3 separate regions of the Homo sapiens genome follow, and regions 1 and 3 are each linked to region 2. Evidence: fine-mapped expression QTL. A gene starts in region 2. Each other region holds a variant in brackets. All regions are shown on one strand. Distances are between the middles of the regions.

Region 1 (4,239 bases), 130 kb before region 2:
AGCACCCGCCTGTAGTTCCAGCTACTTGAGAGGCTGAGGCAGGAGAATTGCTTGAACCTGGGAGGCGGAGGTTGTGGTGAGCCAAGATCACGCCATTACACTCCAGCCTGGGCGACGGGCGAGATTCTGTCTCAAAAAAAAAAAAAAAAACCCAAAAACAAACCAGTAAATATAAGTGTTTCCCTGAGTTCTGTGAGCTGCTCCTGCAAATTAATTGAACCCAAAGAGAGGGTCAGGGGAACCCCAACTTGAAGCTAGTCCATCAGAAGTCCTGGAAGCCTGGACTTGCGACTGGTGGGAAGGAGGGGGCAGTCCTTCAGGACTGAGCCCTCAACCCCCAGGATCAGCCACTATCTCCAGGTAGATAGCATCAGAATGGAATTGAATTAAAGGACACCCAGCTAGTGTCTGCTGCTTGATATATAGCGGAAGCCTCCACATATTTGGTCACAGAAATCTTCTCTGTTGATTGTCATAGTGGAACAGCAGAGGAAAAACGGTTTGAGTTTTATCAAATGAGCATGTTTTCCAGAACTGAGAATTTTTTAAAAGCTGGAATACAGCAAAACACAATGCTAAGATACACTGCTTCAGAAATCAGGAAATCTAGGCCAGGCGCGGTAGCTCATGCCTGTAATCTTGGCACTTTGGGAGGCCGAGGCGGGTGGATCACCTGAGGTCGGGAGTTTGAGACGAGCCTGACCAACATGGAAAAACCCCGTCTCTACTAAAAATACAAAATTAGCCAGGCGTGGTGGCGCCCGTCTGTAATCCCAGCTACTCAGGAGGCTGAGGCAGGAAAATCGCTTGAACCCGGGAGGTGGAGGTTGTGGTGAGCTGAGATTGCGCTACTGCGCACTCCAGCCTGGACAACATGAGTAAAACTCCATCTCAAAAAAAAAAAAAAAAAAAGTCACAAAATCTGGCAAGTGGTCAACATTCACCTCGTTAATATGTGCTGAGCCTTGCTATGTGCTGTGAGTCCAACAGAACTTTCTACAGTGATGGCAATGTTCTATGGCCGCTCTTTCCAACACAGAAGCCATGTGTGGCTGTGAAGCATTTGAAATGTGGCTGGTGAAATTGTGGAACTGAATTTTTAAAAATTTATTTAATTTTAATTAATTAAAACTCAACAGCGGTTGGGCGTGGTGGCTCACACCTGTAATCCCAGCACTTTGGGAGGCCGAGGTGAGCGGATCACCTGAGGTCAGTTCAAGACCAGCCTGGCCAACATGGTGAAACCCTGTCTCTACAAAAATTAGCTAGGCATGATGGCAGTTGCCTGTAATCCCAGCTACTCGGGAGGCTGAATCAGGAGAAACGCTTCAACCCGGGAGGCGGAGGATGCAGTGAGCCAGGATCATGCCACTGCACTCCATCCTCAGTGACAGAGCGAGACTCCATCTCAAAACAAAAACAAAAACAAAAAACTCAATAGCTACATATGGTAGTGGCTACCACACTGGACAACAGCTTTAGCCTCTGTGCAGGTGTATAAACAGGTGCAAAGAAATCTATCAGTAAAACACATTGTACTGATAACTTATAAATAGATAAGAAAACAACAAAGACAGGCCATAACAGGAGGAGTTGGTATGGGAAGAGAGGGTCATA[C/T]ACATGTACCTATGTTTTAAGTGGCTGGAGTTCTGTAAGAGAAGCTTGTTCTATGTACTAATAAAATCAAACCTGGCCGGGCCTGGTGGCTCACGCATGTAATCCCAGCACTGTGGGGGGCTGAGGTGGGCGGATCACCTGAGGTCAGGAGCTCGAGATTAGCCTGGCCAGCATGGTGAAACCCCGTCTCTACTAAAAATACAAAAATTAGCTGGGTGTGGTGGCGCGCCCCTATAATCCCAGCTACTCGAGAAGCTGAGGCATGAGAATCGCTTGAACCCAGGAGGTGGAGGTTGCAGTGAGCCGAGATCGCGCCACTGCACTCCAGCCTGGGGGACAGAGCGAGACTCTGTCTCCTAAAAGAAAAAAAAATCAAACCCTTGCTTGTTGACAGCTTCCCCCCACCCCAAAATAGCACAAGCTCCGTGTAATACTACTTTTTCAGATTTTGGGTTTTTTGTTTTGTTTTATAGTTTTTTTTTTTGAGACAGGGTTTCATTCTATCACCCAAGGCTGGAGCAGCCTCAACCTCCTGGGCTCAATCAATCCTTCTGCCTCAGCCTCCAGTATAGCTGGGACCACAGGCACAGACCACCATGCCTGGCTAATTTTTGTATTTGTTTGTAGAGTCAGGTTTCACCATGCTGCTCAGGCTGGTCTAGAACTCCTGGGCGCAAATGATCTGCCTGCCCCCACCTCCCAAAGTGCAGAGATTACAGGCGTGAGCCACCACACCTGGTCCCACATCTTTTTTCTTTTGTCTTTTTTTTTTTTTTCAGACATGGTCTCACTCTGTCACCCAAGCTGGAGTGCAGTGGCGCAATGATAGCTCACTGCAACCTTGAGCTCCTGGGCTCAGGCAATCTTCCTGCCTCAGCCTTCCAAAGCACTGGGATTCCAGGCACAAACCACCGTGCCCAGCCAGCGCTTCACTTCTTTGTTGCCTTCAAGGTAATGATATAAAGCAACAATTCAATACCAAGTTGGTAAAATAATTTGTATTTCAAACAGAAAGACTGCCTAAAAATATTACCTTTTGCTCCTAGCACCCAGACAAACAATGAATAAAGGGAAATAAGGAAACCCTGGCAGCTGAGAAGGCCTCCTAGTCAATAGATCCAGTTTCTCCCAAGTTCATACTGCAGATGAACTTGTAGTTCATTTAAGTATCTAGATCTCTTTCCTTCATGTAGAGACCTTAATCAAAGACTCTTCTCAGGATTTTATTTCACAGCCTAAGAAATGTTTATTTAATTTAATAAAATACTCTTTTTCTTTAAGGTTGGGTCCATTACCAAATACTAAGTCATGTTGAAAAAATTATGTATATACATACATATGTCTATATATATATATATATATATATATATATATATATATCTCACCATAAAATACTATCCTAGGTTATCAATAGTGTGCTTATAGTGCTGATCTTACTCCTAGTAGAACTGTCACAGTTGATCACTGTCCATTATTTTAGGATATTCTTAGCTGTGGAGTTTGAGAAGACTATGAAACTATTATACATATTTGAAGTATAGTTATAGGTTATGTTAGTTACTTTTAATAAATTTAATGATTAGTTTGACTGTTGACTAGGCATATACAATTAAGTAGAAACGACACAAAACACTGAGTGAATAATTCTAAAAAGGCTTAGGAGGCTCTTTTCACTGTCCATGAAATCATCTTGTGGCCTCTTGAATCAGCTATGCACAAGGCACCAACATATCTACGTCGCACCATAAAGATTCCACAGTCTTCCATTCCCACAGGTGGCCTCAAACCTGGGTAGCAGCTGCTGGCTGGGATCATTCCTGCACAGCTCCTCCAGGCTCCCAGATTTTTTCATCTACTTCTATGGTTCTCTAATAGCAACATTTTTCAACTATTAATTTACTTTTATTCAAAATGATCCAACAGACACCCCCCAAGATTTAATATTTACGTTCATATATATATATTTGGAGACAGAGTCTTGCTCTGTCACCCAGGCTGGAAGTCCAGTGGTATAATCTCGGCTCACTGCACCCTTCACCTCCCGGGTTCAAGCAGTTCTCTGCCTCAGCCTCCCAAGTAGCTGGGACTACAGGCGCACGCTGCCACGCCCGGCTAATTTTTTGGTTTTTTGTAGAGATGGGGTTTCACCGTGTTGCCCGGGTTGGTCTCGAACTCCTGAGCTCAGGCAATCCACCCACCTTGGCCTCCCAAAGTGCTAGGATTACAGGCGTGAGCCACTGCGCCCGGCCTTTACGTTAATATTTATATAGACACTTTAACATTTGTCCTCCTCTCAAGGCCCCAGGAATAACACCAAGTCGTGAGTTAAATGTTAATTTTCTTAGCAACTTGAAAAGATTAAGATCACCTCTATTAGATTCTGGACCTTTGTATCCAAGAAGTCTAATAAGGAAACACCAACAAAAGCACACGTAAGAGAAACACAAACCAAGTTAACTTTGAAGATACGTTGTGCATGGCATAGCATTCATAAAAGACACGCCAGAAAACCTGATTAGACTCAGGACATGCATGGAACAATTGTGCTTACCAGCTTGAGAGAAAGCTTCATGTAAAAATTGGAGAGGTATGGGAAAAATAGAGAGAAAGAGAGAGAGAAAG
Region 2 (4,239 bases):
CATTTTCCCTCCATAATTCCATCCACCTGTCTGAACAAGTGAAAAAAAAATTGTGCCACAATTTCTACTGTCTTGACAAAGATTACTTCTGATTTGCTTCCCCACCCCAGATAAGCTAAAGAGAGCTAAAGGGAGTGGAAGGATTAGAAGAGGAAAGAAACTTCAATACGGTACTCAAAGTCATAGATTTTGCCTAAACTGGTGTGTGCAAATATTTTAAACTATTTTATTTTCAAAATGGATACTTGTAAACATCAGCGGAAATTTTGTCATGAATCCCTTTTAGGCAGAAGATGTTTATAAAATGAATTATCTTAATTTAAGGGAGCTATTGCCCTCAGGATTTTGGTAATAACAACCGTAGCTGCTTCTGTACCTAACAAATGGTTATGTAAAAACAATTAAAGCAAAAGAAAACAAAACAAAAAACAAGGGAGGATGTGCTCTGTTTCTGTAATTGCTCTAACCTTGTTTTATTTTGATATGAGATTTCTTGGCCTCATCTCAGATAGCAACACCACCCTACACTTTCTCCTCCACACCCTTTGCAAATAGAATTCCAAAAGGTAGTTCAGGCACTTTAGAGTTCATCCTGGGAAATGGCTCATCTTGAGGGCATTTCAGTGCAGTAACTGAGATTTCGTCTGCTCCTTCCCGGGCCGCCGCACTGCCCATCCCCTGCCCAGTGATTTCCCCAGGAATCCGGGGACGGCAGGAAAAGAGCTCCATCCACAGCCAGCCCCTCGCCTTTCCGGGGACGGCCCTCAGCCCTGAGGGCTGCCCGTTTACCGTGCGCATCCCCCGGCCAAGCATCCCCGCAAGGCGCCCCTCACCGCCAACTTTCCCCACTGGAAACTATTCTCCGAGCAACCGTTAAAGATCATTGACCCCGCGAACGCCTCTTCCTGAGGTAGATCACGTAAGATCTCTCCCTAACTCCCACTTTCCCCTCCAGACCAGACGTCGCAGTGCCCACATCCCACTCAGGATTGAGCTACCCCGAAAGAACAAGTGCGCCCGGAGCCGCCACGGGCCAGAAGTCCTCGCCTCCAGAGCGAAGACCGCACTCTCGCCCCAGCACCCCAAAACCCGACCCCCGGCGCTCGCCCCGGCCGCCCCGCTCCCGGGGAAGTGCCCGATCCGCCAGCGCCTCCGCGGAGCCAGGACAGAACTCGCGGCCGGGGCGCCCCGAGACCCAACGCAGCGCCGCGCAGCCGGGGCCTCCACGCCCCCACGCCCGGTCCCGGCCCTCCCCGGGCATCCGCGGCTCGCCCCGGGGGATTAGGGCTCGGCCCGACACACACGGCCCGCTCCGGGGCGCCGGGGACAGGGAGGCCCGCCCGCGCCGTTCCTCAGGCCGCCGGGGACCCGCACCAACTCCCCTCGCCTCCGAAGGACAAGCCGGCCCGCACCTCCTGCTCGGGCCAAGGCGGACGAGGGGCATTGGAACCCCGCCTCCTCCCCAGGCCGCGAGGACCCCGACCAGCGCGCCCTCGCCTCCGCCCAGCAGCGCGGCCCGCGCCCCCTCCCCAGGCCGCGGGGAAACGCAGCGCGCGCCCCGCATCTGCCCGCGGGCCCAGCCCCTCACTCACCCAGAGCTCGGTGCCCCAGCTCATGGTGCAGGGGACGCGAAGGGGCGCTCCGCGCGGCGGGCGCGGCTCTCTGGTCCCCCTCCCCGGCGATCCCTTTGCCCCCCGAGATCCCCGCGACGGCGGAAAGCCCGGAGTCCGCGCGGCCTCCTCCGGCTCGCAGCTCCTCGCCCGGGGTCTCCTCGGCGGCTCCTCCTCCCCGCCGCTCCACAGCAAAATGGCCCGAGGAAGCAGCAGCCGCGGCCGCCGCAGCGCCCGCCCGCCCTACACCCGGAGAGCGGGGGAGGGGCGGGAGGGGAGGGGCGGGGCCGGTCTGACAGCTCGCGCACGCGCGCCCGCCCCACCCCGGCCCGGCCCCCTCCCCCGGGCTCCCCCGGCCGGGTCCGCGTCGCCCTGGGGTCCGGAAGGACGCGGAGGGAGGTGTGAGGGACGGCGGGACCCGGATCCCTAGGACTCCCCCTGCCAATCTGGTAATGACTTCTTAGTGACCACTGTCTGCTCGCAGTACTAGCGCTTGCCTTGGAACGCGGCAGGCCCTGGGATCACCGATGCTCCGCCGCGGTCTGAGATCGCTCCCCTGCGCGTATCGCCGCTCTGGATTTAAGGACAATACTTTCCCCTGGCAGCCATGCGCGCCGAGCAGAGTCAGCCCGGGAGGCTCTTTTCCCACCGCCCGAGGGAAGCCCGAGAGTCCCGCAGGCTGGCGCGGTGGGAGTGGGGCGGTGGTAACTGCGCGCTGTGCGAATAGAGACGTCGAGGCAAGCGCGACGGCCTCGAGTGGCTAGGGAAAGAATCCAGGGGCGTGCACCCAGTGATTTCCAATCTCTGAAACCAGTGATTTCCAACTTGTTCAGCCAAGAAACTCTCAGGCGTGAAATCACGTTACCGCCTAGTGGGTAAAAGCAAAGGCGTGGGGTACACAGATAACTTGTTTGGTTCAAATCCAGCCTCCCGCACGTGCTGGCCGGGCGGAGGCGGACAATTGCTCCACCTCTGGAAGCGCAGAGCGCAGTCCACCAAATGGAGGCAAATAACGTGTCCATCTCACTGCCCGGCGGTGAGGATCAGGGGTGGGCCAAGGCCGAAGGTTGGTAAACCCAGCGCTCATTTTATCAGCAGACGGACTCCCTCTCTATATATCCAAAGGTCTGCACAAATGTTCCTGACAAGCTATGGAAAATGTTTGGAATTCCAACTCCTGAATCACTAGCCCTTTCCCCACAGCTTATCTTTCTCCCTCGGTTAATGCTACTACTGGATCCTTTTCTGAGAAACCGTGCGACTCCCAACATGGGCCCCCAGTTAAAAAATATTTTACGATGATGCATTTCTCCAATCCCACCCCACCATTTTCAACCTGCTTATCATTCTCCTCCATTAAAAGGTGGAGCTAACCCGGGTCTGGTGGCTCACGCCTGTAATCCCAGCACATCAGGAGGCCCAGGTGGGAGGATGGCTGGAGGCCAGGAATTTGAGACCAGCCTGGGCAACATCGCAAGACCCTGTCTCTACAAAAAGAAAAAAAAAAAAGTTAGCTGGGCATGGTGGCATGCACCTGTGGTCCCAGCTACTTGGGAGACTGAGACAGGAGGATCGCTTGAGCCTAGAAGGTTGAAGTTGCAGTGAGCCATGATGGTGCCATTGCCCTCCAGCTTGAGCAACAGAGCAAGACCCTGTCTCAAAAATATTAACAATAATGAATTAAAGCCGGGCATGGTGGCTCACGCCTGTAATCCCAACACTTTGGGAGGCAGAAGTGAGTGGATCATCTGAGGTCAGGAGTTTGAGAGCAGCCTGGCCAACATGGAGAAACCCCGTCTCTACTAAAAACACAAAAGTTAGCTGGGCGTGGTGACAGGGCGCCTGTAATCCCAGCTACTCAGGAGGCTGAGGCAAGAGAATCGCTTGAACCCGGGAGGCAGAAGTTGGAGTGAGCCAAGATTGTGCCACTGCACTCCAGCCTGGGTGACAGAGCGAGACTGTCTCAAAAAATAAAATAAAATGAATAATAATAATAAATTAAGAGGTGGAGCTACTAAACAAAAAACAAAACAAAAAAAAACCTCTTGCAGATAAACCTCCAACTCTACTTCCTTTGTTGGGCAGTTACAATAAATTTAAGTTGTCAAAACTGTTTTGGTCTGCCTTTTTTCAGTTACAACCCTCCCTTCCTGCCCACCCCCATTCTTGTGTCTGTATAAATATTTTGCTCTCAGTTACCAGGTCTGAATTCTCTTTCCTCCAGAGACTGCTAGATATATAACAATGAGAACGGCCAGCTACCTATCTCCTAAGGCAGATTAATAGCCAGAGTGAGTTGGAGGGGGAAATTCAAACAATGCTGCACAGTTTAGTCTGCTAAAATTTGGAAACGGTACATGCAATGCAGGTTTATCTAACAAGACATTGCCTCAGTAATCACCTTCCTGCCAGGGCTTGACTTTTTAGTCAAATACAATGATCTAATCTTGACCAAGTTATTGGAGACTTCTCAAAAACAGTGACCACTTGTGAAAATACTCTAATCAAGAAGTAAAACAACCTGCTGCTTTAAAGAGGAGAAAGAGGAAGAGGAAGGGACAGCAGAAGAAAAAAAGAGACCACATGAAGATGAAACTTTTTAAGACGAGTAAGCAGGAGATTGTTAGTT
Region 3 (4,239 bases), 140 kb before region 2:
ACTCTCCTGCCTCAGCCTCCTGAGTAGCTGGGACTACAGGCGCCCCATCATGCCCAGCTAATTTTTGTATTTTTAGTAGAGACAGGGTTTTGCCATGTTGGCCAAGCTGGTCTTGAACTCCTGACCTCAGATGATCCACCCACCTCAGTCTCCAAAGTGCTGGGATTCCAGGCATGAGCCACCATGCCCAGCCGCTTCTATTTCCTTTGGGCTTAATTTGCTGTTCTTTTTCCGACTTCTTGAGATAGATCGTAAGTGAGGATCTAAGTGAGCTAAGGCTCAGTGATTTTTACCTCTGTTTTTAATATGCATTCAGAGCAATAAATCTCTCTATATGCGTGGCTTTAAGGACATCCCACAAACTATATATAGAATGTATGTTAAAGTTCAATTCTATTTCATATACTTTCTAATATCTACTATGATTTTTTGTTTAGTTTGTGGCTTATTTAGAGGCATATTTCTTTTTTTTTTTGTTTTTTTTTGAGACTGAGTTTTGCTCTTGTTGCCTAGGCTGGAATGTAATGGCGCGATCTCAGCTCACTGCAACCTCTGCCTCCTGGGTTCAAGCGACTCTCCTGCCTCATCCTCCCGAGTAGCTGGGATTACAGACATGCGCCACCACGCCTGGCTAATTTTGTATTTTTAGTAGAGATGGGGTTTCTTCATGTTGGTCAGGCTGGTGTTGAACTCCCGACCTCAGGTGATCTGCCTGCCTCAGCCTCCCAAAGTGCTGGGATTACAGGCATGAGCCACCGCGCCTGGCCAATTTCTTAATATTTGTTATTGGTATCCAGCTTAATTGCAGAATATAGATAATATAGCTTGAATGATACATTTCCTTTGATATTTATTGAGATTTGCTTTGTGAAACAAAGATATACTCAATTTTGAAAATGTTCTTATGTGGGCTTGAAAAGAGTGTTGATATGGTTTAGCTGTGCCCTGGCCCAAATCTCATCTTGAATTGTAGCTCCCATATCCCCATGTGTCATGGGAGGGACCCAGTGGGAAGTAATTGAATCATGGGGGCGGTTTTTCCCAGGCTGCTCTCGTAATAGTGAGTCTTATGAGCTCCAATGGTTTTATAAAGGGCAGTTCCCTTGCACAAGCTCTGCCGAATGCCACCATGTAAGACATGCCTTTGCTCCTCCTTTGCCTTCCGCCATGATTGTGAGGCCTCCCTATCCATGTGGAACTATGAGTCCATGAAACCTCTTTTTCTTTATAAATTACTCAGCCTCAAATATGTCTTTATTAGCAGCATGAGAATGGGCTAATACAGTGTGTGCCCTGCAGTTGTTAGATGTTTATGTATTAGGTCAATGTTACTAAATGTATAATTTAAGTCTTCTATACTAACTTTGAGCACTTTTTTTTTTTGAGACAGAGTCTCGCTCTGTTGCCAGGCTGGAGTGCAGCAGCACAGTCTTGGCTCACTGCAACCTCTGACTCCCTGGTTGAAGGGATTCTCCTGCCTCAGCCTCCCTAGTAGCTGGGATTACAGGCACACACCACCACTCCCAGCTAATTTTTGTATTTTTAGTAGAGATGGGGTTTCACCATGTTGGCCAGGATGGTCTCAATCTCCTGACCTCGTGATCCGCCCGCCTCCGCCTCCCAAAGTGCTGGGATTACAGGCGTGAGCCACTGCGCCTGGCCCAAGCACGTTTTTTTTTTTTCTTTCCTTTTATTCAGCCCA[A/G]AAGCCAGCCTTGTAACACCAGTTTCCTTTTGATTGGCCCTTGCATGGTATATCTTCTCTCCCATTTTTTTACTTCTACATTTCTAGAGCTTATAAGTTAGATGTGTCTTTTGTAGATAGCATACATTGCTTTGTGTATTGGGTTTTTAATTTTTTGGTCCATTCTGAGAATATCTTTTAATTGAAACACGTAGTTTGTTTACCTTTAACATATTGATTCATTTTATTTCGCAGACACTTATGTGCCAGGCACGGTTCCAAGCATGTTATGCACACTGACACATCAGCAGTAGTAACTGATAGAGCCAGATTTGACCCCAGGGTATCTGGAGTGCTTGGTATTTAACATCTATCATCCTACTTTGTGCTTTTTTCTTGGAGACGGGGTCTTGCTCTGTTGCCCAAGGTGGAATGCAGTGGTATACCTCTTGAGACAGATCCTTAGCTCTTGCTAGGAGTGAGGGTGTGTGTGTGTGTGTGTGTGTGTGTGTGTGTGTGTGTGTGTGTGTTATTTGACTGGCTTTTCCTACAGCTGTTTTAATGAATGCACCTTCCCCTCACAGAGGCCCTCCTCCTCTATGGCATCTCTGCTTTATGGCAAATGGGTTTTGATTTTTTTGTTTTGTTTTGAGACAGAGTCTCGCTCCATCACCCAGGCTGGAGTGCAGTGGCGCAATCTCGGCTCACTGCAAGCTCCGCCTCCCGGGTTCATGCCATTCTCCTGTCTCAGCCTCCCAAGTAGCTGGGACTATAGGCGCCCGCCACCATGCGAGCTAATTTTTTGTAATTTTAGTAGAGACAGGGTTTCACCGTGTTAGCCAGGATGGTCTCGATCTCCTGACCTTGTGATCTGCCCGCCTCGGCCTCCCAAAGTGCTGGGATTACAGGTGTGAGCCACTGTGCCCAGCTGGGTTTTGATTCTTAAGCAAACAGCTCACTGCAGCCTCCACCTCCCAGGCTAAAGCAATTCTCCCCACCTCAGCCTCCCAAGTAGCTGGGACTACAGGTGTGCCATCACACCCAGCTACTTTTGTTTATTTTTGTAGAGATGGGGTCTCACTATGTTGCCAAGGCTGGTCTCTCTCTCTTTTTTTTTTTTTTTTTGAGATAGGGTCTCACTCTGTTGCCCAGGCTGGAGTGCAGTGGCATGATCATAGCTCACTGCAGCCAGGACCTCCTGGGCTCAGGTGATCCTTCCACTTCAGCCTCCCAAATAGCTGGGACTACAGGTGCACACCATCATGCCTGGCTAGTTTTTTTCTTTTTTTTTTTTTTAGGGTTTTTGCTATGTTGCCTGGGCTGGTCTTGAACTCCCGGACTCAAGCGATCTTCCTGCCTCAGCCTCCCAAAGTGCTGGGATTACAGGTGTGAACCACCATGCCCAGCCTGAACTTGAATTTCTTTTCTTTTAATTTTTATTTTATTTTTAATTATTATTATTTTTTATTTTTTTGAGACAGAGGCTTGCTCTGTTGCCCAGGCTGGAGTGAAGTGGCATGATCTTGGCTCACTGCAACCTCTGCCTCCTGAGTTCAAGCAATTCTGCTGCCTCAGCCTCCTGAGTAACTGGGACTACAGACGTGTGCCACTGCACCTGGCTAGTTTTTATATTTTTAGTAGAGACGGGGTTTCACCATGTAGGCCAGGATGGTCTTGATCTCTTGACCTCAGGTGATCCACCCACCGCAGCCTCCCAAAGTGCTGGGATTACAGGTTGTGAGCCACTGCGCCTGGCCTTGAATTTCTTAATAAGTCATATTGATGCACTATACCTTTGATCCATCTCCTTCTGAATTTCTTTATTTAACTCATCGACTTTCTGCTGCAGCTTTTTCCTTCTTTGTTCAGGTGGGAGGTTGCTGAAATCCTCCGGTGTTGCACCCTGCAGACACAAATATAAATGAGAAACCAGAAAGCCCCAGGCTTTCCTTGAAAGAAGGCTGAAAGCAAAGCCTGCAGCCATGGGGGGTGCAGACATCTGCATGTGGCTTCATGAAATAGATTAAGCTCTTTCCCACTACACCCAGCCGAGATGCAAAAATCAATGCATGCAAACTGCATAAGTCCCATAAACCATTCCCAGTTCCATGGATGCTGGCCAGAATGCCCCAGAAAAAGCAGTGAGCAACGCTACAGTAAAGGAGAGTAAGAGATACTTCTGACTCTAGGGAGAATCCATGAAAAACACATTTTGAGACAGTCTTCTTCCTTTTCCTACCAAGTGTTACCATCAATGTCAGTGGCAACACTGAAGTGTTAATGAAATTTATGTTTCCTTAATACAAACCCCATCAACCACTGCACGCCTAGCTGCTGCCTTTTCCCTAGCGTGAGTATTCCTGCCAGTCTCTTCACACAGGCTGAGGCCAAAAGTCTCCACCCCTGTAAAGTGACAGATGGGACATCACATTCCTCAGAGAATGTGGGTGAAAAAGAACATTAAAAAAAAAAAATCTCTTCTCCTTACCCCATGCACACCTCCCTCTGCTGCCTCTAAAAGTCTAGTTACTTTTTTTTTTTCCTTGAGACAGAGTCTC

Alleles and levels. Alleles are on the strand shown, and positions count from the first base shown. SD is a standard deviation of normalised expression in the study named. Not every link is listed here.
With allele G in place of A in region 3, the expression in Th1 cells of the gene that starts at base 1,830 in region 2 is lower (large effect, 0.76 SD a copy in Schmiedel 2018).

Evidence for each region. PIP is the estimated chance that this variant, and not a neighbour inherited with it, causes the effect. A credible set is the group of variants that fine-mapping cannot tell apart.
Region 1: its variant is the best candidate, but not a certain one, in a credible set for the expression of FNBP1 in whole blood (INTERVAL, PIP 0.68).
Region 3: its variant is the best candidate, but not a certain one, in a credible set for the expression of FNBP1 in Th1 cells (Schmiedel 2018, PIP 0.87).

The regions. Positions count from the first base shown.
Region 1 is chr9:129,911,798-129,916,036 of GRCh38, forward strand. FNBP1 (formin binding protein 1) reads right to left here. Exons shown (of 17, transcript NM_015033.3): 11 at 4,169-4,183. Among named protein-coding and RNA genes, the nearest start is that of MIR6855, 44 kb to the left of the region's middle. The variant C/T (reference allele first, on the strand shown) is at 1,618.
Region 2 is chr9:130,041,360-130,045,598 of GRCh38, forward strand. It overlaps FNBP1 (formin binding protein 1), which reads right to left and starts at 1,830. Exons shown (of 17, transcript NM_015033.3): 1 at 1,593-1,830. The coding sequence starts at 1,616. RefSeq lists silencers at 1,193-1,352, 1,533-2,092.
Region 3 is chr9:129,905,416-129,909,654 of GRCh38, forward strand. FNBP1 (formin binding protein 1) reads right to left here. Exons shown (of 17, transcript NM_015033.3): 12 at 3,475-3,584. Among named protein-coding and RNA genes, the nearest start is that of MIR6855, 38 kb to the left of the region's middle. The variant A/G (reference allele first, on the strand shown) is at 1,703.